Regions from separate parts of the Homo sapiens genome. Here all the other regions are linked to region 4. The links come from fine-mapping of genetic effects on gene expression. A gene starts in region 4. Each other region holds a variant in brackets. All regions are shown on one strand. Distances are from middle to middle.

Region 1 (5,102 bases), 200 kb before region 4:
GATTTATCTTTAATATTTTAATGGCAGCTGGGATTAGTGGGCAAACAGCCCCGACTGGGGTTGTTCACGGCGGATTAAGTTCTGATCAACTCTCAGATGGGGAGCCCCCACCCCCACCCCACTCCACTTTCTGTTTTCCACAAAGTGCTTTTTATTATTTTTTGTTGAAAAAAAAATTCCCTTGTCTTTTGGAGCATCATAAATTCCATTTGCTGTTTTCTATTAAATCAAGTTGATTAAATTCGTTGTGACTCTTTGCACATAGATCTTTTTAATTTTAACGTCTCCAGCATAAAATCTTTAATGGTGCCATTTGAAATTGCTGCAATATACAGTACAGGCCCTGAGAAAACAGATGGAAATGAGGTTCTGCCAGGGATGGGGGAGGTCCTATCAGGAGGGGTACAGTTGGGAGAAGGCACAGACCTCCAGGTGAAGGCAGGGGACTGACTCTTCCTGAGGTCCAGAGAGCCCCACGTTCTCCATTCAGCTATTTTCTAGCTTCAGGGCTTTGGCTAGGAACTTGGCCCATGCTATGGAGGGCTTGCTATGTGCCTGGCACTGTGTATGCATCGCCAGTCATCCTTACAAGGAGGCTCAGAGAGAGGTCACTTGCTCAAGGTCACGTAGCAAGTCGGTGGCAGTGGTTGAGTCCAGATTGTCTTTGCCAATAAAGCCTCATCTCCCCTTTCATCAGTAAAATGGGGGTGATCGGTTCCGCCCTGGGTCACAGGTGCTTGGAAAGATTGGATGAGGTCCACAAACTGCTTTGGGAACAGTACAGAGCTGTGCTCTCCTGGGGGGATGGAGGAGTGGGGCTGACCCATTTGGGCCTCAGAGGCTCTGCTATCACTGGGTAGAGCTGCCTTTTGAGACCCTGGGAACCTTCACTAACTCCAGGGTCTCGGCTTCCCCCCGCCCCTCAGCTCTCCAGCTCTCCGGCCTCCGGCCTCAGGCTTTTTCTCCCCGTCTCTAATCCTGACCTCATCAAGTCCTGGGAAGAGGGTTGATCCACAGGAGCAAATCCCTCATTCAGAGGGGCAAAATCAGCTTAATTTGCAGCAATTTGAAGCAGGTCTTTGCCAGGATTTGAATATCAAATTATCCCACAGCCTGGGCTGGTCTGGGAGGCCTCCCCCGGCTGCAATATGGACCGATGTGCTCAGGCTTCACCAGGGAGATTGTCCTGGGAGTGACTGAAGCTGAGGCTGTGGAGATGGGAGTGAGTGTCAGAGGGTAGTGGGCAAGGTGGGGGTCACCAGTCAGCCCCCACTGCCAGAGGGCACTGCAGCAGTGACTGAGGGACAGATGGAGTTTGGGGTCAAAACCTCCTGTTCTTGAGACTCACCGGGGGCTCTTGTCAAATGTGCGGATTCCCAGGCCCTTCTACAAACATAAGAAATCAAGATTTTCTTGACTAAGAAAGTTTAGAAAAATCCGGTGCAGCTCAGTTAGCCAATCAACAAACACTTGCTGTGCACAATCTGTACTGCCTCTCATTTTGAGAGAATCAGCCTCCTCTGGTGCCCACCCTGTTCATTCCCAGCCTCTGGTACTGTGGACAATATTTCCTTGGCTGTCTGCTCCATGATGGCCCCTGAGGCCTGAGTCAGCGGCTGCAGAGAGCTCTTCAGCCTTCCCTTCCTGGTCTGCATGCCCAACTCCTCTGGCCACCCGGCCCTTTCATTCCTTTTCTGCAAGCTCAGGCCTAGCAGACATCCTCTTATGTCAGTCACACAGGCCTCGCTGCCCAGACCTGAGCCCCGGGGCTCAGACCCCTCTCATGGGCATGTCATGAGCTGTGAGCCTCTTCAGGAAGGCCCGAGGTTGGTGAAACATTCTGGTCCCGCCACAGTGTTGTGTCCCTGTGGGCCCTGCAGTGTAAAAGTAGCAGCCAGGGATGTTGGGATGGCTTTGCGCAGGCCCACTGTCCAGCCAGCACCATCAACAGAGATGAGAGGCTCTCGGTGTGACAAGCATTATAAGAGCCACAAGTGCTTCCATTTAATTCTCACAAAATCCTATGGAGTAGGTACTATTATTATATACACCCATTGTATAGATGAGGAAACTGAGGCACAGAGAAATTAGTAACATGCCCCACCCAGGTCATACAGCAATAAGAGGTGGACCTGGGATGCATACGCAGGCAGTCTGACTCCAAACTGCTCCTCTTAACCACTTTGTTCTGTCTCCATCTATCCACCTTTACCTAAAATTTTGTCCTTCTCTATATTCTCCACAGCAATGACTTGCCTTATTTTTAAAGGCATAATCACAGTGTGTTTGGGGAGCAAAGAAAGGAGCGCATAACCTACACTAGGGCAATCACAGAGGCTTTTTGGAGGTGGTGTCTTTATTTGTTCAATGATGTGGTAGAGCAACCACTGTGTGCCCAACACTGGTGATACAGACATGAAGAAGCCATGGAGCTCACAAACGGGGGCCTGAACACCCCATCGGCAGTGCTCAGTGCACTGATGGAGAAAACACAGGGCATCGTAGAAACACTGGGGACACCCCAAAGCCCAGGAGATCAGGGAAGACTTCCTGGAGGAGAGGCACTAGTCCCCTTCACTAGATCTAGTCATTAACCTGAGGTTCAGATGGCCCAGAGGTCCCACTGGGCACACTCACCCTTCTTTGTCTCAGCCAGTCCATCCTCCGTGGACCGTCTGGACCAACCAAGCTTGAGACCCTCTCTGACCACCTGTCCTAGACAGGTAGACCCCCTCAGGGGAAGTCTGTGTTCCCTACTGCTATGTGTTCTTAGAGGCGGGGCCTGAGCAGGAACGAAACTCCTGAACCCCAGATCCTATGCCTAGCAGGGTCTGGTGTAAGTCATTGGCTGCCTTGGGAAAGCCCAGTGGTTTGATTC[A/G]AGGATGACTAGAATTTAGAGCAAAAAGGGACCCCAGAAGCCACCCAAACCTGTTTTGAAGGAAGCCACAGGAGATGCCCACGCCCCACAGCTCAGAGATGCTGCAAATTCCAGCCTCCCAGTGCCCTATCTTCTCTCTGGGGTGGTCTAGCCCCACCTGGCACTCCCCCAGTCTTTGTCCCCGTGTCTGCCTTGCCTGATGGTGGCCAGGGGGCCTTTCCGGAATAACGATGGTATTGGCTCAGATTAAGGGCAACTAGCTGGCTCTTGGCTTTTCATTTTTATATAACAACTAATCTCCTTCTAATCAGCCATTATTAAATTATATTCCATTTTTAATTCATTCACAGATCACCGTTGGGACAGCTGGATGGATAATTGGAGAGAGATAATTTATGTAAATGAGGAGCAGCAGAAGGTGGGGGAGAGGGAGGCCCAGGGCGCCAAACGGAGCCCCCTCTGTGTCCAGGCTGGGGAGGGGGCAGTGGCCTGGCTCCTCCTGGAAACCCGCGCCTGGGGATGCTGGGAGGATTGGGGGCTGCCATGGGACCTCAGGGCTCCTGACCGGTGGTTCCTGGTGTGGCCCCTCAGCATCACCTTGAACACTTTTGGCAAATGGGAAGCTCACTACTTTGGGGGCGGAGTGGCTCTCAGACATCAGCTCCCCCTTTTAGAAGCAGATCCTGAGAGGCAGAATGCCCCAGAAAATTCTGGAGTCAGAGCTGTTTTTGATTCCAACTCCACCACTGTGTGCCGTTTCCTAACCTTAGTTCCCACGTCTGCAAAACGCAGGTAATGACAGTATCTACCTCATAGAGTGCTGTGAAGCTTAAGTGCCTGGCACCTAAGGAAGAGACCAAGACAAGTACATGGTGGCTCTTATCACCCTTATAGGACAGTGTGTATCTTTCAGAATCTTCCTCTCTAACATCTGCCTTCTGGCCATGGAGCTTCCTTCTGGTAACACACAAAAGAAATCCACTTCCTTTGCATATCTGAAGACAGCTCTGTACCACTGATAATAACACTCCGGAGGCTTGTGTCTCATTGTGTCCTCCGTGTCTCATAGTGTCTCATTGTATCCTCGGAACGACTATAGAAATTGGGGGCGATTGCGTCCATTTTACAGATGAATATACTGTGGACCCAAGCTCTCTCCTGCCAATTCCTTCAACAAAAACGATAACAAGCCCCAGAAGCCTGCTTAGAAAGGAACACGAGGCTCAGAAAACCTGGATCCCAGCCGGAGGCTATTTTGGGAAGGTGCCTTGGGGACTGGCAGGCAGGGTCAGGGATGGCAGGGAAGGTGGGTGAGAGAGGTTGGACCTCCACCCTTCTTGGCTGTCCCTTTGGGGCCCCAAGAATCAGGCACGATGGGCATTCATGGGCACAGGTGGTCTGACAGAGCTTGAGGGGCAAGGTCTGCCTGTGCCTGGGGCTGGCATGGGCTGGCAGGGAGGCCCTTGGACCATTCCCAGAGGGAGACAGGGGATTAAGGGGGGTTAGGGAGGTGGTCCCAGAGGGTCCATGCAGAGTAATGGGATTAGCTCTTGGGCAGTGAGTGAAAGTTATTATCGTGTGGGGCCTCTGGCCTCCCACCCAAGGCTGCAGCTGTCACCCATCCTGGGAGGCACCAACAGCCCCCTCCACCCCCACCTTGGGGCAGGCTGGCACCTCTTCTCCCCACAGGCTTTTCTGCTGTGGTCATCTGCCTAGGGGCTGGCCGCCTAGCTTTAGCCTCCTGTCGGTCCTTGGCAGACTGGGCCACCCACACAGTATGCTCTAGACTTGCTCTGTGCCTCGGTTTCCCCTTGAACAGAAAGATACAAGAAGGTGCTTGAGATCCTCTGAGGCATGGGGGTTCGGAGCCAGGCCCCCTGGGTTTCCGGCTCTGCCACGCATTCGCTGTGTGACCCTAGGTACATCTGTCAGCCTCTCTGTGTCCTAATTGGTAAAATGGGGGCAGTAGCAGAGCAGCGTTAGGGTTTTCATAGCGGAGGGCTGGGTAGGGAGCATAGGGTCGGCCTGTTGGTGCTGGGCACCTCCTAGAGGTCGGGGCCGCGGAGGGCTGCGGGCCTAGGGCCTAATGACAAGAAGGGACCAGTCTTGTCGGAGCCTCGCAGCCCCTGCGAGGCGGGTGAAAGGCAGCGCCTGAGCGAAGCCGCAAGCGGGAGACTTCGGAGACGCTCCCGGCTCCCTCTAGCGGTGGCCGCGCGAGTGGCGC
Region 2 (5,102 bases), 190 kb after region 4:
AGAAACAACTCAGTTACCCCTCACTTCCTGCTGGGAGCCAGTCCCTTATTCAGATAGGTATTTTAGGCAGGGTTGCTAATGACCTCCAAGCCCATTAGTGACATTCTTTATGTTTGCTTCACATGCTGATGCAGGTGATGTGACTGCCCCTGGCAAGATGGGAACTCCTCTCTCTGCCCTGGCACAGCTGCCTTAATGTTCTTAGGTAGCCTCTACTATTGTGTTCTAGACTTAAAATCCAGGCTAGTAAAAAGGGCGTCAGAAATTGGCCGACCATGCAGTCCTTTCCTATTTTGTTCTTTTCTGCACTGATGTATAAGTAAAAGTTTACGTGGTTGACACAGCGCCCAAACTCCATTTTCTTTGCTAATGGAAGAGAGTAGAGGGGAAGAAAACACAAAACAGGCTCTGTGTGCACAGCACACACACTGTCATTCTCACAGGGGCCTCCCTGGCTTCCTGGGCAGCTTGCCTCTTGAGGGGAGAGCAGGGCCCCTGGTCGTGGTGCCAGGAATTCCTAGTTGCGTCAGAAAGGGCAACCGCTGCCCATGAAGGCTGAGCAAATTCCCCGAGGCACCCAAACAGTGGGCAAAGGAATTCAGAGGTGGTGGGCCCCTGCTGCCTCCACCCCTCCTACTTATAAAAACACAGGCAACAAGCCATCAAAAAGACACTTTCAACCAGCAAAGCCCTAATATCCAAAATGCATACTCCAATGAATCAATATGAAAAAAAAAAGCAACCCACTAGAAAAAAATAGACACTTCACAAAAGAGGAAAAATATATTTAAAAGACGCTCAACTTCATTAATTAGCAGGAAAATGCAACTTAAAACAACAATAAGATGTCTTTATGCCTGATGATATCAAATGATGAAGAGGATGTGTAACAATGGGAACTCATACATGGCTGGGGAGGGAATACATTGGATTCAGTCACTTGGAAAACTATTTGGCAGTATCTAGCACAGTTGATTATTCACAGATGCTATGTGCCATTTGTCCCAAAAACCTGACCACTTCTCTTCCAGGTCTCCCAGAACCTTATCTGGATTAGCTATACAAACAAATGAGGTCTGGATTGAGGAGCTGGCATTCCTTTCCTTCCTTCCTTTCTTCTCTCCCTCCTTCTTTCTCCCTTTTCTTCCTTACTTTCTTTCTTTTTACCTTTTGCCTTCCCTCCTCTTCTTTCTTCCTTTATTTTTGCTTTTCAAAATAGTAAAATACAACATACATATAGAAAAATACATATAGAAAAATGCATAGAAAACTTTGAGCACTTTGGGAGGCCTAGCTGGGTGGATCACCTGAGGTCAGGAGTTTGAGACCAGCCTGGCCAACATGGTGAAACCCTGTCTCTACTAAAAATACAAAAAAGTTAGCCAGGCATGGTGGTGCACACCTGTAGTCCCAGCTACTCGGGAGGCTGAGGCAGGAGAATTGCTTGAACCCTGGAGACAGAGGTTGCGTGAGCTGAGATGGAGCTACTGCACTCAAGCCTGGGTGACAGAGCGAGACTCTGTCTCAAAAAAAAAGAGAAAAAAGAAAAACGAATAGAATATCTTTGGACAGTTTAAAAAATAATTACAAAGCAGCCCCCTGTGTAACCAACACTCAAGTCAAGAAATAATAATGGCCAAACATGGTGGCTTATACCTGTAATCCCAGCACAATGGGAAGCTGAGGCCAGAGGACTGCTTGAGCCCAGAAGTTCAAGACTGGGCAACAAAGTGATGTCCCGTCTCTATGAAAAATTTTAAAATTAGCTGGGCATGGTGGCACGTGCCTATAGTCCTAGCTACTTGGGGGGCTAAGGTGAGAGGATCACTTGAGCCCAGAAGGTTGAGGCTACAATGACTTGTGATTGTGCCATTGCACGCAAGCCTGGGTAACAGAGCAAGACTCTGTCTCAAAAATAAAATAAAATAAAATAAAATAAATAGTAATAATCAGCACCCAAGAAGTTCCCTGTGCATCCCCTGAGTGATCACAACCATCTCCCTCCTATCAGAATTACTATTATACTAACTTTCATGATGTTAATTCCTTCTTGTTCTTTATAATCTACCACCTGTATTTGAATTTTATATGTGTGGATTCCCACTGTGCACATTCTTCTGTATCATGCTTCTTTCCCTCAATGTTATGTTTGTGGGATTCAAACAACTAACTCACTGGTTGTCACCGTAGCTCACTCATTTTCATTGCTGTATTGTATGAATCCACTACGATGCATCTCTTTCATTCTTTTTCTACTTTTTTTGAGACGTAGTCTCTCTCTGTCACCCAGGCTGGAGTGCAGTGGCACGATCTTGGCTCACTGCAACCTCCGCCTCCCGAGTTCAAGCAATTCTCTGCCTCAGCCTCCCAAGTAGCTGGGATTACAGGCACCTGCCACCATGCCCAGCTCATTTTTTTTTTTTGTATTTTTAGTAGAGACAGGGTTTCACCCTCTGGGCCAGGCTGGTCTTGAACTCATGACCTCGTGGTCCACCCACCTCAGCCTCCCAAAGTGCTGGGATTGGTGGCAGGCGCCTGTAGTCCCAGCTACTGCGGGGGCTGAGGCAGGAGAATCACTTGAACCCGGGAGGCGGAGGTTGCAGTGAGCTGAGATTGCGCCACTGCACTCCAGCCTGGTGACAGAGCGAGACTCCGTCTCAAAAAAAAAAAAAAAAAAAAAATAGATAGGATTGTTTCTGTTTTGAGCCTATTATGAACAATGCTGCCAAGAACATTCTTGCACCTAAATCCTGATACCCTTGTGCAAGAGCTTTTGTAAGGTGATGGCATCAGGGGGCTTCCCTTTAATCAGGGCTTAGTGCATTCACGCTTTTCCCCTGTCTCCTCTTCCAAAACCACCTCTCAGGAAAGGATTAGAAGTTCACTCATGTTAAGGTATAAATGGCTGAGAAGGATTAA[C/T]ATGTAGTCTCTCCCATATAACTGTGAGGTGGGGACAAAGGAATTAATTTCTAATTGTAGAATTTTAGTATCATGCCGGGCGCGGTGGCTCACGCCTATAATCTCGGCACTTTGGGAGGCCGAAGCGGGCGGATCACAAGGTCAGGAGATTGAGACCATCCTGGCTAACACAGTGAAACTCCGTCTCTACTAAAAATACAAAAAAATTAGCTTAGTGTGGTGGCGGGTGCCTGTAGTCCCAGCTACTTGGGAGGCTGAGGCAGGAGAATGGCGTGATCCCAGGAGGCGGAGCTTGCGGTGAGCCGAGATTGGCCACTGCACTCCAGCCTGGGCGACAGAGCAAGACTCCGTCTTAAAAAAAAAAAAAGAAAAAAAAAGAATTTTAGTATCAAGAGATTGGTGGAGAGAAATCCATTAAGTTAGCCCTAAAAAAAGCATCACATGGTTGTAATACCATGAACCAAGAAAATGAAAAAGAAAAAATCCATATAGACAACAACAACAAACCAGCCAAGGTGCTATACTCTACTTGAAAGGTCAAAACCCACATACAAGAAACGAAGTCCCGCTGGGCACAGTGGCTCATGCCTGTAATCCCAGCACTTTGGGAGGCTGAGGTGGGTATATCATCTGAGGTCAGGAGTTCGAGACCAGCCTGACCAACATGGTGATACCCCATCTCTACTAAATATACAAAATTAGCTGGGCGGGTGGTGCGTGCCTGTAATCCCAGCTACTTGAGAGGCTGAGGCAGGAGAATCGCTTGAACCTGGGAGGCAGAGGTTACAGTGAGCCAAGATCACACCATTGCACTCCAGCCTGGGCAATAAGAGCTAAACTTCGTCTCAAAAAAAAAAAAAAAAAAAAAAGAAGAAGGAGAAGAAATGAGGTCCTGTCTCCGAGGATCAGTTGGTAGTTAATGGCTAAGCTAACTGGTGATAGAGTGGTCAAAAGTAAGTCCTCAAGGCCAGATACCTGCACTTGAACCTCAGCTCCATCAGCTAGATGAGTCACGTTCTCCCAGCCGCAGTTCCTCTTCTGAGAAATCGACATAATGAGAGTACTGACCTCATCAGGCTGTTGTGAAAATAAAATAATGACTGAATCACATTTCACACAGCGCTTTCCGTTTAGTAAGTGCTCAAATAGTATTGGGCATCCTTCTTATTTGTGTTATTTGATGCTGAGTGTGAGCACTTTCTCTGTGTCAGGGTAAGCCAATGATCTGAGTAGGGCTTGATAATGCCATTGGAGAGTCTGACAAGATCAAAGTGTAAATGGGAGAGAAGAGGAAAAGAAGGAAAGAAATGAGAGCCACATATCTACTGGCAAAAGGAAAAGTGCAAAATTTCCAAGGGCAGGCTGCTGAAGGCCTGCCAGAGCGGGTAAGTGGAGAGGCTGGGCCAGAGAGGCAGAGGGGCTGCTCACCTAGATCAGGCCCAAGAAGCGGTTTGAGTGGGTCTCACTGTGTCAGGATAGAGAGGTCAGGTGTAGTCAATACATGAATAGGAAGGTGCAGGGCAAGAAGTAGGTCAGACAACAGCAAAGGTGTGCATGCCCACAGGATTGCTGTAGATCAACTGGAACTGAGGCCTGTGGCTTGTGATGCAGCTGTGGCTAACAGCTCCTATGCATGCTGATGGCTTCACGTCTCAAGCACCAGTGGAGTCTCTCAGCTTTTCTGCTTCAGAATTTTCTCCTCAGCTTGGAAGCTTGCTCAGTCCAACTTGCAGATACAGCCACAGAAGAAAGGGGCGGGAGCTGGGTAGTAGGGGAGTGGGAGAGTGCCAATGGAAGATGAAGGTTGCTGGATAAATGTCCCAACCTCTCACACTTCAGCAGGACAATTTTGGGTGGTTTCTATATGGTTCTTCAAAAGTGTGCAGGGAGATTGAGCCAATTGTCCACAGTGACAACCCAGCTCAGTAATGTATCTTTCATTGGCTTTCCGTCCTTCCTGTATCACTCTCCTCTCTCCCTCCCCGTCTTCCTTGGATATCTTCCCAAGTAAACTATTGTCACCCAAGTTCTTGTCTCAGGGTCTGCTTTAGGAGGCACCAAACCTAAGTTGTTTTATTACTAACACAAATCTGAAGCTGAGATTCCAAAAACTGAAACAAAAACTAACTTAAATAGAATGTAGTCTTGATGTGGGGGCTCACGCCTGTAATCCCAGCACTTTG
Region 3 (5,100 bases), 68 kb before region 4:
CCACTTGGGCTTTGGGAGTCACAGGCACCCACCCCTAGATGCTACCGTGGGGCTGGAGCCCAAAAGTGCTCGCCCTGACTCCTACACCTGCCCATCTGCGTGCTCCCTCTCCCATAAGAGGATTGAGTGCACACAGACAAGCCACACCCCTGTCGTATGTCCTGCGGTTAGGGAACTCCCCTATTTCAACATGAGGACTTTTATCTTCATCTGTATGCCAATGACTCCATATTTATATTTCCATTCCCAACCTTTCTAAAGAACTACAAAGGTTTATGTCCAAGTGGTTATTTGAATCCCTCTCTATTTACATATAAAAAAACTGCTTAAGGCCAGATGCAGTGGTGCACGCCTGTAATCCCAGCAGTTTTGGGAGGCCGAGGTGGGTGGATTGCTTGAGCTCACGAGTTTGAGACCAGCCTGGCCAACATAGTGAAAACCCATCTCTACAAAAAGCAAAAAAATTAGCCAGGTGTGGTGGTGTCAGCCTGTAGTCCCAGCTACTTGGGAGGCTGAGGTGGAAGGATGGCTTGAGCCCAGAGGTGGCAGCTGCAGTTAGCTAAGGTCACACCACTGCACTCCAGCCTGGGTGATAGAGCCACATCCTGTCTCAAAAAAAAAAAAAAAATCCCCACTTAAACTTTAAACCTAATTATCTTCAAAACCATATTCCCCCAATCTTCTCCCATCTCAAGAAATAACACTACCATAAATTCCAATTCTCAGATCAAAAACCCAGATGTCATCCTTCATGCATTCTTTTCCTTCACCCTTCCATAACCAATCCATGAGTAAATCTAGTCGTTTCTACCTTCAGAATACACCCTGAAATCAAATAACCCAAGGAACCATCACTTCTTTCTTGGACTACTTCAACAGCCTCTTAACAGATCTCTCTGCTCCCATTCTTACCCTTTCCCCTTCACACCCCCGGAATCTATTCTCCATAAAGAGGCCAGAATTGATTTTTTTAAACGTCAATCAGTTCGTGTCTCTCTCCAGCTTAAAGTTCCTCCCAGCTAAATCTGTGAATGTGTATCTACCACACTCTATAAAATCTTACTCAGCCTCTACCTAATTCTTTGACATCATTTCTCTTCCACTCTTCCCTTGCACACAGTAGTACTCAATATTAACATTTGTTGAGTTTTTATTGTATGCTCAGTATGCTAACCAGTTGCATAACTAGTTCATTTAATGCTATAAACAGCAGTTCTTAACATTTTCTGGGTAACCACATCTCTGGAAATCTGGGAAATAAAATGAACTCACTCCCCAGAAAATATACATACGTACAAAATGTACTTTTCTCTAAACTGAATTTGTTTTGCCAAATATTCCAAAGGAATTTCCAATGGCATTTTAATTGTAAAGAACTCAACTAATACATTGCCTTAATTAAAGCATCCAAAAATTAGCTTCTCTTTGTTACCGATTTCTGAGGAATGTTCAACCATAACAAAAGTAAAGTTATTGGGCCAGGTACAGTGGCTCATGTCTGGAATCCCAGTGCTTTGGGAAGCCGAGGCAGGAAGATTGCTTGAGCCCAGGAGTTTGAGACCATCCTGGGCAACATAGTGAGACTCCATCTCTACAAAAAATAATAAGGTGGGGGCATGGTGGCTCACGCCTGTAATCCTAGCACTTTGGGAGGCCGAGGTGAGTGCATCACCTGAGGTCAGGAGTTCAAGACTAGCCTGGGCAACATGGTGAAACCCCGTCTCTACTCAAAATACAAAAATTAGCCAGGTGTGGTGGCGTGTGCCTGTTATCCCAGCTACTGGAGAGGCTGATGCATGAGAATTACTTGAACCCAGGAGGCGGAGGTTGCAGTGACCCGAGATCATGCCACAGCACTCCAGCCTGGGTGACAGAGTGAGACTCCGTCTCAAAACAAAATAAATAATAATAATAATAAATTAGCTGGGCATGGTGGTGTGAGCCTATAGTACCAGCTACTTAGGAGGCTGAGATGGGAGAATCGCTTGAGCCTTTGAGGGTGCAGTGAGCTATAATCATATCACTGCATTTCAGCATGGGCAATAGAGTGAGAGAGACCCTGTCTCTAAAAGAAAGTTAAAAAAAAATTATTGGGGGTACAATCTAATAACCTACATGGGTGACCTTATGATACCACAGTCTGGGATAGAACTCAGACTCTGCTGTGAGTCTTACTCTCATAAATTAAGTAATTAGATGGCTGTATTTGAATTTCAGTTTTCTCCTTTTCAAAGACGCTCCAGCAAATTTATCACGAAAAAGACAAAAGAGTAAATGACAAACATATTAAAATAAATATTATCTGAATTAAATTTTAAAGACAGTGACAGGTGGAACACTAAAAATAGAAGTGAAAGAGCTAGGCCGTGGAATATTTTGGAATGAGATACTTATTTAGAAGCTGAATTTAAGTTCAAAGTGCTTGACTTGATTTTTTCAGATTAAAAAGAAAACATTAGGTGGAGAGGAGTGAAACTTTGTAAGAGATGAGAATGAAAACTTAAAAATCAAGAGTGCAAATAAAGTGACCATAGAGATGGCTAGAAAAGGAAAAAAATTTAATTTTTTTTTTTTTTTTTTTTTT[TG/G]CAATGGAGTCTCGCTCTGTCCCAGGCTGGAGTGCAGTGGCGTGATCTCGGCTCACTGCAAGCTCTGCCTCCCGGGTTCACGCCATTCTCCTGCCTCAGCCTCCTGAGTAGCTGGGACTACAGGCACCCACCACCACGCCTGGCTAATTTTTTGTATTTTTTAGTAGAGACAGGGTTTCACTGTGTTAGCCAGGATGGTCTCGATCTCCTGACCTCGTGATCCACCCATCTCGCCCTCCCAAAGTGCTGGGATTACAGGCGTGAGCCACCACGCCAAGCCAAATTTAATGTTTTTAATACTCTTCCTGGCCAAAGAAAGGAAACTAAATTGAGAGATGACAGGGGAAAAAAATCAAACTCAAGGAACACATCTCTAAAATCCCCAAAGTTTGTAAAAACAATTTAAAAATAAACTAAAAAGTTTAATAACAATTACTTCTACTTGTATTACTTGGCTTTTTTTTTCAACTGTGGTGAAATATACATAAATTTTACCATTTTAATAACTTTTAAGTATACATTTCAGTGGTATTAAGTACATTAATTGTGCAATCATCACATTCATTTCCAGAATTCTTTCACCTTCCCAAACTGAAATTTGGTACCCATTAACAATAACTCCCTATTCCCTTGCCTGACTTTTTAAATGCCCTTCTTTCTGGCAAGAGAAGGACATTTTTGCAAGAGCGCACCCAGGCAGGAGAATCTCTTTTGACTCCAAACATCCATAATTTCTTTTTTTTTCCTTCTTTTTTTTCTGAGACGGGGTCTCGCTTTGTCACACAGACTGGAGTGCAGTGGCATGAACATGGTTCACTGCCGCCTCCACCCCCTGGGCTCAAGAGATTCTCTTGCCTCAGCCCCCCCAAGTAGCTGGGACTACAGGTTTGTGGCATCACACCCAGATAATTTTTGTATTTTTTTGTAGAGATGGGGTTTCACCATGTTGTCTAGGCTGGTCTTCAATTCCTGAGCTCAGGCGATCTGCCTGCCTCAGCCTCCCAAAGTGCTGGGATTAGAAGTGTGAACCACCACGCCCAGCCATAATTTCTAATACAGTATGTACCTGCGCTCACAAAATTTAAGACTCGGTTAAACTTAAAACTTAAGATCAAGTAATATATTATTTCTGCATATATCTAATCAATCTTTCAATAAATGTTAATTAAAGACCTACTGTTCGTCAGGCACTGTGCTAAACCTGGATCCAACTATGAACAAGACAAACTTGGAATTTACAATCTAGCGCAAAAGGGGCAAAGTTAACAGAGTAACTATGCTGACAAGGAAGATACTGAGATAATGAATAATGGTGGGAAAGGGCAACTCCAGATACTGTGTTCTAAGAAAGACTCTTTGGGAGGTGACATCTAAAAAGAGAACTGAAACTGAAAAAAAAAAATGTTTATATGTTTGAGTCATCTTTTGGTCTCCCAAAGCACCTAGCATTATGCCTTTCATGTAGCAGGTACTTAATATAGCTCACCTTGGCTTCAATTTCTTCATTCCTGCAATGAACTTCCAAGATTCCTTCCAAATATAAAATGTTTTTGTCTAAGGGAAGGAAACCTATATATCAATAAAATCGATATATAGTTGGGATGAGGATGGTAGAACTAAAAATGAGTTTAAAAATGACTGCAAGACCCTAACTCTCTAAAGCAGAACCAAGAGGAAAAGCATGGGAGTATACCAAAACAACTTAATTGTTACTTGAAATGACTTGCATTTTACACAATATATAAACAGAAATCGTTAATTCACTCAGCCTTAAGAAACAACACGTAAAGCAGATGGAAGACAGGTTGCGACCTGTGCAAGACGACACTTAAAAGCTCAATACTGATTCTCCTCGCGACTCTCAGGGCGAGGGGCCGAGAACGTCCCCCGCTTCTCTTGCTGCCACGGCAATGGTCCCAAACTGAGGAGACAGGAGAGAGATCATGTTTCTCTTGCGGTTCAGTATCGAGATGAGGTCAGCCAGCAGCCCTGCGAGGGTTTGTGAGAATCATTCCATCCGTGCGCTCAATCAGAAGAGAACTGATCCTTTCAATGGGTACCCCAAGGAAAAAACTACAGTAAGCCACGTCCTCCAGAAACATCTCCTCCTCGACCCTCAGCCTCGCCCAAATAGAGATAAGGAAGGCACAGGGCGACCCCCCTGTCCTTTTACCCAGAATGAGTCCCTCCCTAGTGCCCTCCTCCACACGCCTGGTACAGAGCGGGGAAACTGGGCACCTCCGGAGCTGCTGTGAAGAACCGGTGAGCTGAAGACGGCGATGGATCTCAAGAAAAAAAATAAAAGGGAAAGGAGAAGAGCCCAAGAAAGAAATGTATGTTCGAGGGGCAGAGACAGAGTGGATGTTCCCAGTAGAGCAAAGAAGGAGGCTGCAGGCAAAGATCTCTAAGCCGGCTCTTACCGTCTGTGGGAGACGCCATCTTCCAACCCATGTCACGTGACGTGGCCAACCGTCGGCGGGAAAACGAGGTTCCATAAGCCACGCCCCCAAAGAGA
Region 4 (5,102 bases):
TTCACCCAGGCTGAAGAGCAGTGGCGTGATCTCGGCTCACTGCAAGCTCCGCCTCCCAGGTTCATGCCATTCTCCTGCCTCAGCCTCCCGAGTAGCTGGGACTACAGGAGCCCGCCACCAGGCCCGGCTAATTTTTTGTATTTTCAGTAGAGACGGGGTTTCACCGTGTTAGCCAGGATGGTGTTTTTGTTTTGTTTTGTTTTGGGCTAGGTCTTGGACAAAAAGTCAAGTCACTAGGGCAAATACGTTAAATAGTTTATCAGCTGGTGCCACAGTTCACCGGACTTTTTTTTTTTTTTTGAAACAAGATCTTGCTCTGTCATCCAGGCTGTAGTGCAGTAGCACCATCACAGCTCACTGCAGCCTCAACCTCCCAGGCCCAAACGATCCTCCACCTCAGCCTCCTAAGTAACTGTGACTACAGGCATGAGTTAGCATGCCCAACTAATTTTTAATAAAAATTTTTGTAGAGACAGGGTCTTCCTATGTTGTTCAGGCTGGTCTTGAACTCCTGGGCTCAAGTGATCTTCCCCTGCTCAGCCTCCCAAAGTGCTGGGCATGAGCCACGATGCCCCACCCACCGGGCTTTAAGGATGCCTGAGAAACCATAATCATTTATATAGAGGTGGAGAGGAAAAAGGATGGATTCAAAGATTAAAGTGGTAAAGGAAGAGATTTTTCTAAATATTTATTGTATAAGCATTAACAAAACACTCCCCCTTATATATGGTAGGTACCATGATATATAAATATGTACATATTTAAGAATATTTCACCTGTATTTGAATTCTAAATATTTTCACACATATGTACATGTGGACCTTTCTATACTGCCACCCTCCACATCCACTTTCCTACCTCTGGTTCTCAGTCCTCTTCCACAGAGGTAATGGGTTTGCAGTGGAGAGAACCAAAGTCCCACTTTCACCTTTTGTTCTCTTCAAATTAAGGCCAGCTCCATTCCCAACCCCTCAGCCTGTTATAGCTGTTGATGTCCCTTTCTGGCATGATTTAGGCACTAGTGATACACTGTCTCACTACGACCATCCAGGTATCAGGTCTGAGTGGCTCGAAGTACTTGATGCGACAGGGCATGGTGGCTCACGGCTGTCATCCCAGCACTTTGGGAGGCCGAGGCGGGTGGATCACCTGAAGTCAGGAGTTCGAGACCAGCCTGGCCAACATGGTGAAACCCTGTCTCCACTAAAAATAAAAAAATTAGCTGGGCGTGGTGACGGGTGCCTGTAATCACAGCTACTCGGGAGGCTGAGGCAGGAGAATTGGTTGAACCCAGAAGGCAGAGGTTGCAGTGAGCTGAGATCGTGCCATTGCACTCCGGCTTGGGCAACAAGAGCAAAACTTGGTGTCAAGAAAAAAAAAAAAGTACTTGATGCAAGAAATTAGACACTCTAATAGGACCACTGATACTCACTGTAGAAACAAAGCCAGGTTTCTCAAACAATGGGTCATGGAAAATCCAAGGAATAAGGTCTCTTACCCTTAGTGTTCCTCATTGTTCAAATGTGTACTGTAGAAGCATGGTCAAAATCTGAAAACATATGTTAGTGAGTTCTAGGAATGTGATAAGCCCTTGGCACTTTAAGGGCTAGACTAACTGTGCAGTTATGTAAAAACAAAAAAAAAATACCATAAAAGAATACTTACATTAACAAATGGGAAGAAAAAAGCCACATATAAGTATGTACATTGGGCTATCGTTTTATTAAAAAAGAATACTCCAAAATATAGTAGTGTTTATTTTTGGATAATGAGACTACAGGTGATTTTTGTTTTTTCTTTTGGTACTTCCCATGTTTCCCAAACTTTCTGTATTGAGCATGAATTACTCTCTTAAGTTACTTTACAAACATCTCAAGTTTGGTGCCAACTCTGTGTTCCCATATATGGTGTTGTTGCTGGACACCACGTATGACTCCAACGTGTCCAGAAACCACCGGGGTCCCCCAATAGGGCTAGTAGCAATCTAGCAGCAACTCCAGGCCTGTAAGGGGTTAGTGCTAGAACATTACCCACCTCAGTGGCTCTGATCAGTTTGGGAAAACCTCAATAATTATCCAACTTGGTAAAATACTTTAGGTGTCCCCTTTGAACCAAAAGAGATCTCTGAAAAGGCCCAAGGAACTACTTTATACATCCTCTACACGTTTAAGATAATCTGAACACATAGTAGAGATCTGCCAGACTATGGACATGGGAGCTGTAATCCTCACAAGCCGGGAGAGCCGGGGAGAGGGTCCGAGTGGGCCGGCGCGGGGGGCGCCAGGTTGCCAGCCCCAGACCCGAAATCCCAGGCAGGCCCAGGGAGAGGGGACTCTCGGGTGGCTTCTCCTTACTTCGTGTCTTTGCCTTTGCTCTTGCCTTTCTTTTTGTCCTTTCCCTTCGACGGCATCTTGGCTTCCCCAGGGGCTCCGCTGTCGTAGTTGCCCAGCCGCGGCCGCCCTGGCCAGCTCTGTCTCCAAGGGAACCGGGACGCCGAGCTGGCAATGCCCCACCCGCGCCGCTGACGGCGCGCGGAGAGCGCACGCGCCCGTGACGTAGCCCAGGCGCCGCGGCGCGCGGGGTGGGGCGGAGGTCGCGCCGAGGGCGGCGGGCTGCCGCGCAAGGGTGGCGCGCGCGCGGTGAGTGTGCGAGTGTCGGCGGCGCCGGATCCTCTACGTGGGGCCCGGGCTCTGCGGGCGGGAGGCGGGAGCTGGCAGCCCCAGGCGGTAGCGCTTCGTCCTGCGGCCTGGGTGTGTCAGGAGTCGCTGCGGTCGGGGCGCCCTTGCCTCAGGAGACTTAGATCCCCGCTGATCCGCCCGTCCCGCCGCAGTGGTCTGAGCCGCAGCCCTTTCCCGTGCCGCCCGCGGGTCCCGTTCCTCCCGTGTCTCCATGCCGCAGCCAGCGTGGCCGCGGCTACCTTGCCCTCGCCCCCGCTCCGCTTCTGCCGCTCCCGGCACTGCCTTACTCCTTTGGGTTGCATCTCTTTCCTGGCTTTTCACCCTTGCTGATTCTGTAAGGGATAGTGCAGCCAGCGGACGTCCCAGGCCAAATGTTTTTTGATAGGCAGTCGAGGACTTTCCCGAGGGCGGTGGTTGAGGGCGAGGCTGCCAGCCTCCGAAGAGCAGCGGCACGCCAGGGAGCCGGGCGGGGAGGGGAGTGCTGCCACCGAGGTCGGGAGCAGGGTCCTCGGCCTCACTAGGTCCTGTGTGGCCGATACTTCCTGCCCACGACCGCCCCCCGGATTTCCATTTGCTAATACCGGTCCGCAGCCTTCTTTCCTGAAAGTTGCATAAAGTTGGAAGCTCTTCAACTTGCCTCCCCGACTCCTGAAATCCCGAATACACCTCTGAAAAGGAGTGTACTCACAAGTATTCTCATTTTTCAATGAGAGTCAGTCAGTGAGTCATTAAGGAAGGTACGGTATTCTGAGTGCCAAGCCAATAGTTAGGAGACTTGTGGTTGAAGCTCTGCTCTGTTATACTCCATTTCAAATTAAAAAGTTTATTTTAAATGTGGTTGTAGATCCTTCGTCACCATTTCTCTAGGGAGGACTTAATCCGTACACTCCTTCCCGATGTCTTTGACCTCTAATTACTCCCCTCCGCCTTGTTTCCCACTTGCATAGTTTCTGTTTCTGAATTTCTGTTTCTTCTGAGGGAACATGCCGATTTGGTAATGATAAGCCTTGTAAACTTTTTTTTTTTTTTTTCTGAGAGAGAGTCTTCTGTCACCCAGGCTGGAGTGCAGTGGGGCATCTCGGCTCCCTGCAACCTCCACCTCCTTGGTTCAAGCGATTCTCCTGCCTCAGCCTCCCCAGTAAGTGGGACTACAGGTGCATGCCACCACACCCGGCTAATTTTTGTATTTTTGGTAGAGATGGAGTTTCACCATGCTGGCCAGGCTGGTCTCGAACTCCTGGCCTCAGGTGATCCACCTGCCTCGGCCTCCCAAAGTGTTGAGATTACAGGCGTGGGCCACCGCCCCGGCTGTAAACCTTTTTTTTGAGACAAGAGTTTTGCTCTTGTTGCCTAGGCTGGAGTGCAATGGCGCAATCTCGGCTCACCACAACCTCTGCCTCCCGGGTTCAAGCAATTCTCCTGCCTCAGCCTCCCCAGTAACAGACTATAGGTGCGTGCCACCATGCCAGGCTAATTTTTGTATTTTTGGTAGAGACAGAGTTTCACCATGCTAGCCAGGCTGGTCTTGAACTCCTGGCCTCAGGTGATCCACCCGCCTTGGTCTCCCAAAGTGTTGAGATTTACAGGCATGAGCCACCGCCCCCGGCTGTAAAATTTTTTTTTTTTTTTTTTGAGACAGAGTTTTGCTCTTGTTGCCCAGGCTGGAGTGCAATGGCACGATCTCGGCTCACCGCAACCTCCACCTCCCAGTTCAAGCGATTCTCCTGCCTCAGCCTCCCGAGTAGCTGGGATTACAGGCACACACCACCATCCCTGGCTAATTTTGTATTTTTAGTAGAGACAGGGTTTCTCCATGTTGGTCAGGCTGGCGTAAACCTTATTATACATACCATCTGCCAGCATGATCATGGCTTTTTCTTTTCTTTTTTTTTGAGATGGAGTTTCGCTCTTGTTTCCCAGGCTGGAGTGCAATAGCACGATCTCGGCCCACCGCAGCCTCCACCTCCCAGGTTCAAGCAATTCTCCTGCCTCAGCCTCCCGAGTAGCTGGGAATCCAGGCATGCGCCACCATGCCCGGCTACTTTTGTAATTTTAGTAGACACGGGGTTTCTCCATTTTGGTCAGGCTAGTCTCGAACTTCCAACCTCAGGTGATCCGCCCGCCTCGGCCTACCAAAGTACTGGGATTACAGGCGTGAGCCACCACGCCTGGCCGATCATAGCTTTTTCTGAGTGTATTTCTGGTATACTTTCACACTCCCGTGAGTCCATAGGCGGAATCGCCATATATTGAAGAGTTTATCTCTGATGTAAAATCTATAAAGTTACCATTAATTTTGTATGTGTAAGGTTCTGAAAAAGCACACTGTTGATAAGCTGCAGAAAAGAGAGTAGGGCATCTTCTGTCACAGGCTGTATATTTGGAATTTATTCTAGAAATTGGTAACTTTATAATATGAAAGTC
Region 5 (5,102 bases), 920 kb before region 4:
GGCAGCAAAGCACTTTATGAGGATTTAGAATGAGCAAGATGTGTTGTGGCCAGAGAAGCAGATCTCAGCCACTGCCTCACAAAAATAATTTTAAGGCAATGTAGACCTGGAGGCTGAAAATGGATTTCTTTAAAACCGTCAGTACTCAGGCCTCACGTGCGTCTAGCGGTACTCCCCTGTTTGGAGACTGCTGTCTTAGGGTAATCAGAGGCATGATTGCATGGAGTGTGATTAGGTTCAAATGTGGCTCTGTCACCGACTGGCCGTGTGACCACAGGCAAGCTTCTTCACCTCTCTGGGCCTCAGTTTCCTAATCTTCACAAGAATAATCAGGGTGCCTTCCTCATGGAAGGTTGTTGAGGGTTAAGAAGACAGTGCTTGGCACAGGGCTGGGCACATGGGTAAGTGTTTGGTGAAGGGTAGCTCCCAGCTTCTCCTCAGCTTGAAGCAAGCAGGGACCCAGGAGCACTGCGCCCTCCCCATGCTCCCTGCCCAAGCTCCTCCTCTGGGCCTGCCCCCTCCTCCATAGGAGGAGACCGCACCCTCCACAGTGTGCTGATACCCGCCCCGTCTGTGCTTGGTCTCTGGCAGGTGCGGCGATGCTGTTCCCCGGAGGTAACCCACCCCTTGGAGGAGAGAGACCCCGCACCCGGCTCGTGTATTTATTACCGTCACACTCTTCAGTGACTCCTGCTGGTACCTGCCCTCTATTTATTAGCCAACTGTTTCCCTGCTGAATGCCTCGCTCCCTTCAAGACGAGGGGCAGGGAAGGACAGGACCCTCAGGAATTCAGTGCCTTCAACAACGTGAGAGAAAGAGAGAAGCCAGCCACAGACCCCTGGGAGCTTCCGCTTTGAAAGAAGCAAGACACGTGGCCTCGTGAGGGGCAAGCTAGGCCCCAGAGGCCCTGGAGGTCTCCAGGGGCCTGCAGAAGGAAAGAAGGGGGCCCTGCTACCTGTTCTTGGGCCTCAGGCTCTGCACAGACAAGCAGCCCTTGCTTTCGGAGCTCCTGTCCAAAGTAGGGATGCGGATCCTGCTGGGGCCGCCACGGCCTGGCTGGTGGGAAGGCCGGCAGCGGGCGGAGGGGATCCAGCCACTTCCCCCTCTTCTTCTGAAGATCAGAACATTCAGCTCTGGAGAACAGTGGTTGCCTGGGGGCTTTTGCCACTCCTTGTCCCCCGTGATCTCCCCTCACACTTTGCCATTTGCTTGTACTGGGACATTGTTCTTTCCGGCCAAGGTGCCACCACCCTGCCCCCCCTAAGAGACACATACAGAGTGGGCCCCGGGCTGGAGAAAGAGCTGCCTGGATGAGAAACAGCTCAGCCAGTGGGGATGAGGTCACCAGGGGAGGAGCCTGTGCGTCCCAGCTGAAGGCAGTGGCAGGGGAGCAGGTTCCCCAAGGGCCCTGGCACCCCCACAAGCTGTCCCTGCAGGGCCATCTGACTGCCAAGCCAGATTCTCTTGAATAAAGTATTCTAGTGTGGAAACGCTGATCTAGTGGGTGTGTCTTCCGGGGCAGTGAGCGTCAGCCGGGAACGGAAGCCAGACAGACCCAGGGATCGGGGTGTAACAGGAAGAGCACAGCACCTTCTCCGAGCCTCAGTTTCCTTATCTCAAAAGCCTCGCTCAGTCGACGAGAGGGCATGTCACAGCTCACGACAACATGTTAGCTTGCTCCTTCCTTCCTCCTTTTGACAGCTGAGGACACTTAGGCCCAAGAAGGTGAAATGGCTGATGGAGAGTTAAGAGCACTGAAGCGGGGGTCAGAGGCCTGGCTTTGTCTATAACTCACCGAGTGGCACTGGGCTTCCCTCTGCCTTCACGTTTCATCTCTGACCTGAGGGGCCTGGCTAGATGGCTCTTCTGGCTTTGACACATTTCTACTGGGGCCCAGGCTCAAGTCTCGGTGGCCCTGGGTGGTCACTGGAGACTGTTCCTGTGGAGGCCACTTCAAGGCTGCCCCGGAGGTCGCCCAACCTGCTTCTACAGCACCCTGGGGTCGCCCCTTCCCTAACGAGGAGCTCCCAAGATGTAGTTTTGTTTCCAAAGTTGAGGAGAGGCTGGTCCCAGCCACTTTTTAACAGCATCAAGAGCACAATCTCCTCCTCTCCCAGGGCTTAGGGCTGCCCCAGCCCAGTGCCGCAAGGACTCCCGAACTCCTCCGGCCCTCCTGATAGACATCCTGGGCTGGGTCTCAGGGCGCTGAACGGCAGCACGTATAGCCTGCTCGGGCTGCTGAACAGACGCAAGGACCAGCAGATGCTGCCCGGATTTCTCTGCCTTTTACCCCCCAGTTCCTTCCGTCTTCCTCCTCAGTGCTTTGGCAGGAAAAAAATAAATCTTCTTATTATTTTTTAATGGTTTTTTTTTTGAGACGGAGTCTCCTTCTGTCGCCCAGGCTGGAGTGCAGTGCCACAATCTCGGCTCACTGCAACCTCCACCTCCCAGGTTCAAGCGATTCTCCTGCCTCAGCCTTCTGAGTAGCTGGGATTACAGGCGTGCGCCACCATGCCCGGCTAATTTTTGTATTTTTAGTAGAGACAGGGTTTCACCATGTTGACCAAGCTGGTCTTGAACTCCTGACCTCAAGTGATCCACCCGCCTCAGCCTCCCAAAGTGCTGGGATGACAGGCATGAGCCACCATGCCAGGCCTATTTTTTTTTTAATCCAAACCACTTACTATCAAACTCCACTCTGCTTCTGACCTGCAAGGGGTGTGTGTGTGTGTGTGTGTGTGTGTGTGTGTGTGTGTGTGTGT[CTGTGTG/G]TCTGTGTCTTTGATGTTATATGCTGCTATATGTATTGGGGGAAGAGAAGTTCCCCCATTCTCTCCTCAGCCTCACTTCCTCATTTGAGGCTGCTGAGGAGAAACCCACAGGGACCCAGGGGCACAGGGGCCTGCCTGGGGCTTTGAGGGGAGCTGGGGATGTCCAGCGGAGTGGGGTGGCCCTGCTGAGGCAGCTGTCCTTGGTGCCCTGTTCACCGAGGCCTGGGGACTCTGCAGGACACGCTGGTCAGAATGTGCTTCTGGCTGTGGTCATAGACGGGTGTGAGTCAGCCCCAGGAGACATACTTTGCCAAAGAAATGCACTTCCTCTCCTGCCTCTCCTCTCTTTAGCTGCAGCTGTTCTGAGCTGTTGCCTTTGACCCACTGTGAACTGGGAAGAGCACCCATCCCCTCCCACTGGCCAGGCCTCTAGCTCAGCCCTGAGGACCCCAACCCAGGCCCGGTAGCATCTTCAAGGCTTTTGGCTCCATAAGGTCACCCACATGGCGGGCAGCCTCCCGACCCAGGCCAGTGACCCCTGTAGAGAGCAAGACAGAAACCAGAAAAGCTCCTGGAAGCCAGAAGCAAAACTCCACATCCGTGGGCAGGAGCCTCGCAGCAGGAATGGGTAGGAAGGAGCCAGCTGGCCTACTTGACTATATTGGCAGCCGTTCCAGCCATTTAGGTCCTAGAGGGATTTGCTTGTCATCTATTTGTGGAGCACCCTCTGTGTCCTAGACACTGACTAGGCATCCAGGATCCAGTGGGGACAGACACACAGGACCCTGCTCTCGTGGACCACACATGCGAGGGGAGAGACAGCCCATGCTCTAGTGCCAGAGGGTACTGGGTGGGCCTTTTCTGCTGCTCGAATGGGTGGCCGGACTCAGAGCTAAGGAAAAAGGGCCTTGAGTACCCCATATTCTAAAACAAAGGAACCATTTGAGACTAGGCCCATTTGCCTACAGGATTTATTAAGAGATGGTTAAAGCAATTCTGCTATGCCCCCAAATCTCCCAGCACCCCCTTCCTCAGTCTCCATAAGCAGAAGACCAGGACAGGGGAAGGAAGAGAGAGGGAGATGGGTCACTGGAGTCCTGGGGTGCTGACTCCCTCCCCTCCTCTCCCTGGATCTGGATTTGCTGTTGAGATCAGCCCACGCGCCATCTGGACAGGGAGGTTGGGGGAGGGCAGGATTGAAGAGGCAGAGACAGACAGGGCAGGGACTCCTTGGGGCACCCAGCAGTCGTTGCCCATGGGTCAGGTGGACATGGCGGAAGGTGCATGTCCTTGAGCTGTCTTGTCCATGTCCTCCCAAGAGGGAGGCCTGCAGCTGTGCAGACCCACAGTCGGTAGGCTGTTGGGTGGAGGTTGGGGCAGTGGCTGAGTGGTGGGGTGAGAGATATAGAGCTGAAGGGACCTCTCACATCAGGGAACAGTGGTGCGAGGTGGCCCTGTGGTGAACCCACAAGAGAGTTAGCATCTGAACGCCATCATGCCGGGAACATTCATAGCCAGAGAAGAAATGGCCACAGCTGACAGGGACTTTCCTGAAAGCTCTCCCTCCCCATCTGTGTGAAAGAAGAGAAAAGGGGAGAGAAAAGGAGGAGGAGAGAGAGAGAGGAGTGGGGGTACAGGGGCAAACTACACCCCTCCCCACTCCCCTGGGCCAAATCCAGACCCTGCCTGGGGAAGGGAAATGGTTAGTCTTGGTTAGATGGACCAGCCTAGATGGGGCTGGGCCTTTAATAAGCTAAAGCAACAGGAATACTAGAAGATCTGCCCAAGATACTGTTACGGGACAGAAAAAGGAGAACCAACATAGTTCATCTAGAAGCAATGATGGAAGGGGGAAAAAAACTTGCTCAATAAGCAAGTTACCCATATAAACAAATACATTAATAAGAAAATGTCTTGCTGCCAAAATGCGTTCTCTCATATTAGAGATGCTCTTGAATTATTTTACATTCCTCCTCTTAAGAGGTGAAGTGTCTTCCCTCTGTTTGAATCTGAATTGGCCTGGGTCTGCGTTGATCAGTAGACTATAGCAGAAGAGACCCTATACTTGTTTCAAGTCTAGCTTTCAAGAGGACTGGCAGCTTCTGCCTTGGTCTGTTGGAACCCTATGCTATCATGTAAGATGTCCAACTACCCTGAGGTCACCATGTTGGAAGGAAGCTCAAGCTGGCCGTATAGAGATGTGGAAAAAGAGAGAGAGAGAGAGACTCAGCCAACCCCAAGCTATTCCAACCCGCAGCCATTACAGTTATCTTAGCAGATGCCCCAGATCTTACAGAGCAAAGACAAGCTGTATCCACTGTGCCGTTTGATTT

Alleles and levels. Alleles are on the strand shown, and positions count from the first base shown. SD is a standard deviation of normalised expression in the study named. Not every link is listed here.
For the expression in pancreas of the gene that starts at base 2,601 in region 4, allele A in region 1 goes with a lower level than allele G (small effect, 0.37 SD a copy in GTEx).
With allele C in place of T in region 2, the expression in uterus of the gene that starts at base 2,601 in region 4 is lower (moderate effect, 0.44 SD a copy in GTEx).
With allele TG in place of G in region 3, the expression in memory regulatory T cells of the gene that starts at base 2,601 in region 4 is higher (large effect, 1.0 SD a copy in Schmiedel 2018).

The links. PIP is the estimated chance that this variant, and not a neighbour inherited with it, causes the effect.
Region 1: its variant is fine-mapped to the expression of ENTPD5 in pancreas (GTEx, PIP 0.98).
Region 2: its variant is fine-mapped to the expression of ENTPD5 in uterus (GTEx, PIP 0.96).
Region 3: its variant is fine-mapped to the expression of ENTPD5 in memory regulatory T cells (Schmiedel 2018, PIP 0.95). The same link has a PIP of 0.9 or more in naive CD8 T cells.
Region 5: its variant is fine-mapped to the expression of ENTPD5 in whole blood (INTERVAL, PIP above 0.99).

The regions. Positions count from the first base shown.
Region 1 is chr14:74,217,803-74,222,904 of GRCh38, reverse strand. No RefSeq gene overlaps it. Among named protein-coding and RNA genes, the nearest start is that of VSX2, 19 kb to the left of the region's middle. The variant A/G (reference allele first, on the strand shown) is at 2,879.
Region 2 is chr14:73,829,098-73,834,199 of GRCh38, reverse strand. It overlaps LINC02274 (long intergenic non-protein coding RNA 2274), which reads left to right and starts at 4,065. Exons shown (of 2, transcript NR_135238.1): 1 at 4,065-4,304. The variant C/T (reference allele first, on the strand shown) is at 2,920.
Region 3 is chr14:74,084,899-74,089,998 of GRCh38, reverse strand. It overlaps LIN52 (lin-52 DREAM MuvB core complex component), which reads right to left and starts at 5,043. Exons shown (of 6, transcript NM_001024674.3): 1 at 5,006-5,043. The coding sequence starts at 5,024. RefSeq lists enhancers at 3,925-4,014, 4,955-5,100. The variant TG/G (reference allele first, on the strand shown) is at 2,585.
Region 4 is chr14:74,016,787-74,021,888 of GRCh38, reverse strand. ENTPD5 (ectonucleoside triphosphate diphosphohydrolase 5 (inactive)) reads left to right here and starts at 2,601. Exons shown (of 16, transcript NM_001249.5): 1 at 2,601-2,639. BBOF1 (basal body orientation factor 1) reads right to left here and starts at 2,540. Exons shown (of 12, transcript NM_025057.3): 1 at 2,355-2,540. The coding sequence starts at 2,410. RefSeq lists enhancers at 1-83, 1-143 and silencers at 2,424-2,673, 2,704-2,773, 2,784-2,923, 2,964-3,033, 2,949-3,243.
Region 5 is chr14:74,938,223-74,943,324 of GRCh38, reverse strand. PGF (placental growth factor) reads left to right here. Exons shown (of 7, transcript NM_002632.6): 7 at 592-1,491. The coding sequence ends at 619. It overlaps LOC107984690 (a long non-coding RNA gene), which reads right to left and starts at 596. Exons shown (of 3, transcript XR_001750826.3): 1 at 1-596. The variant CTGTGTG/G (reference allele first, on the strand shown) is at 2,764.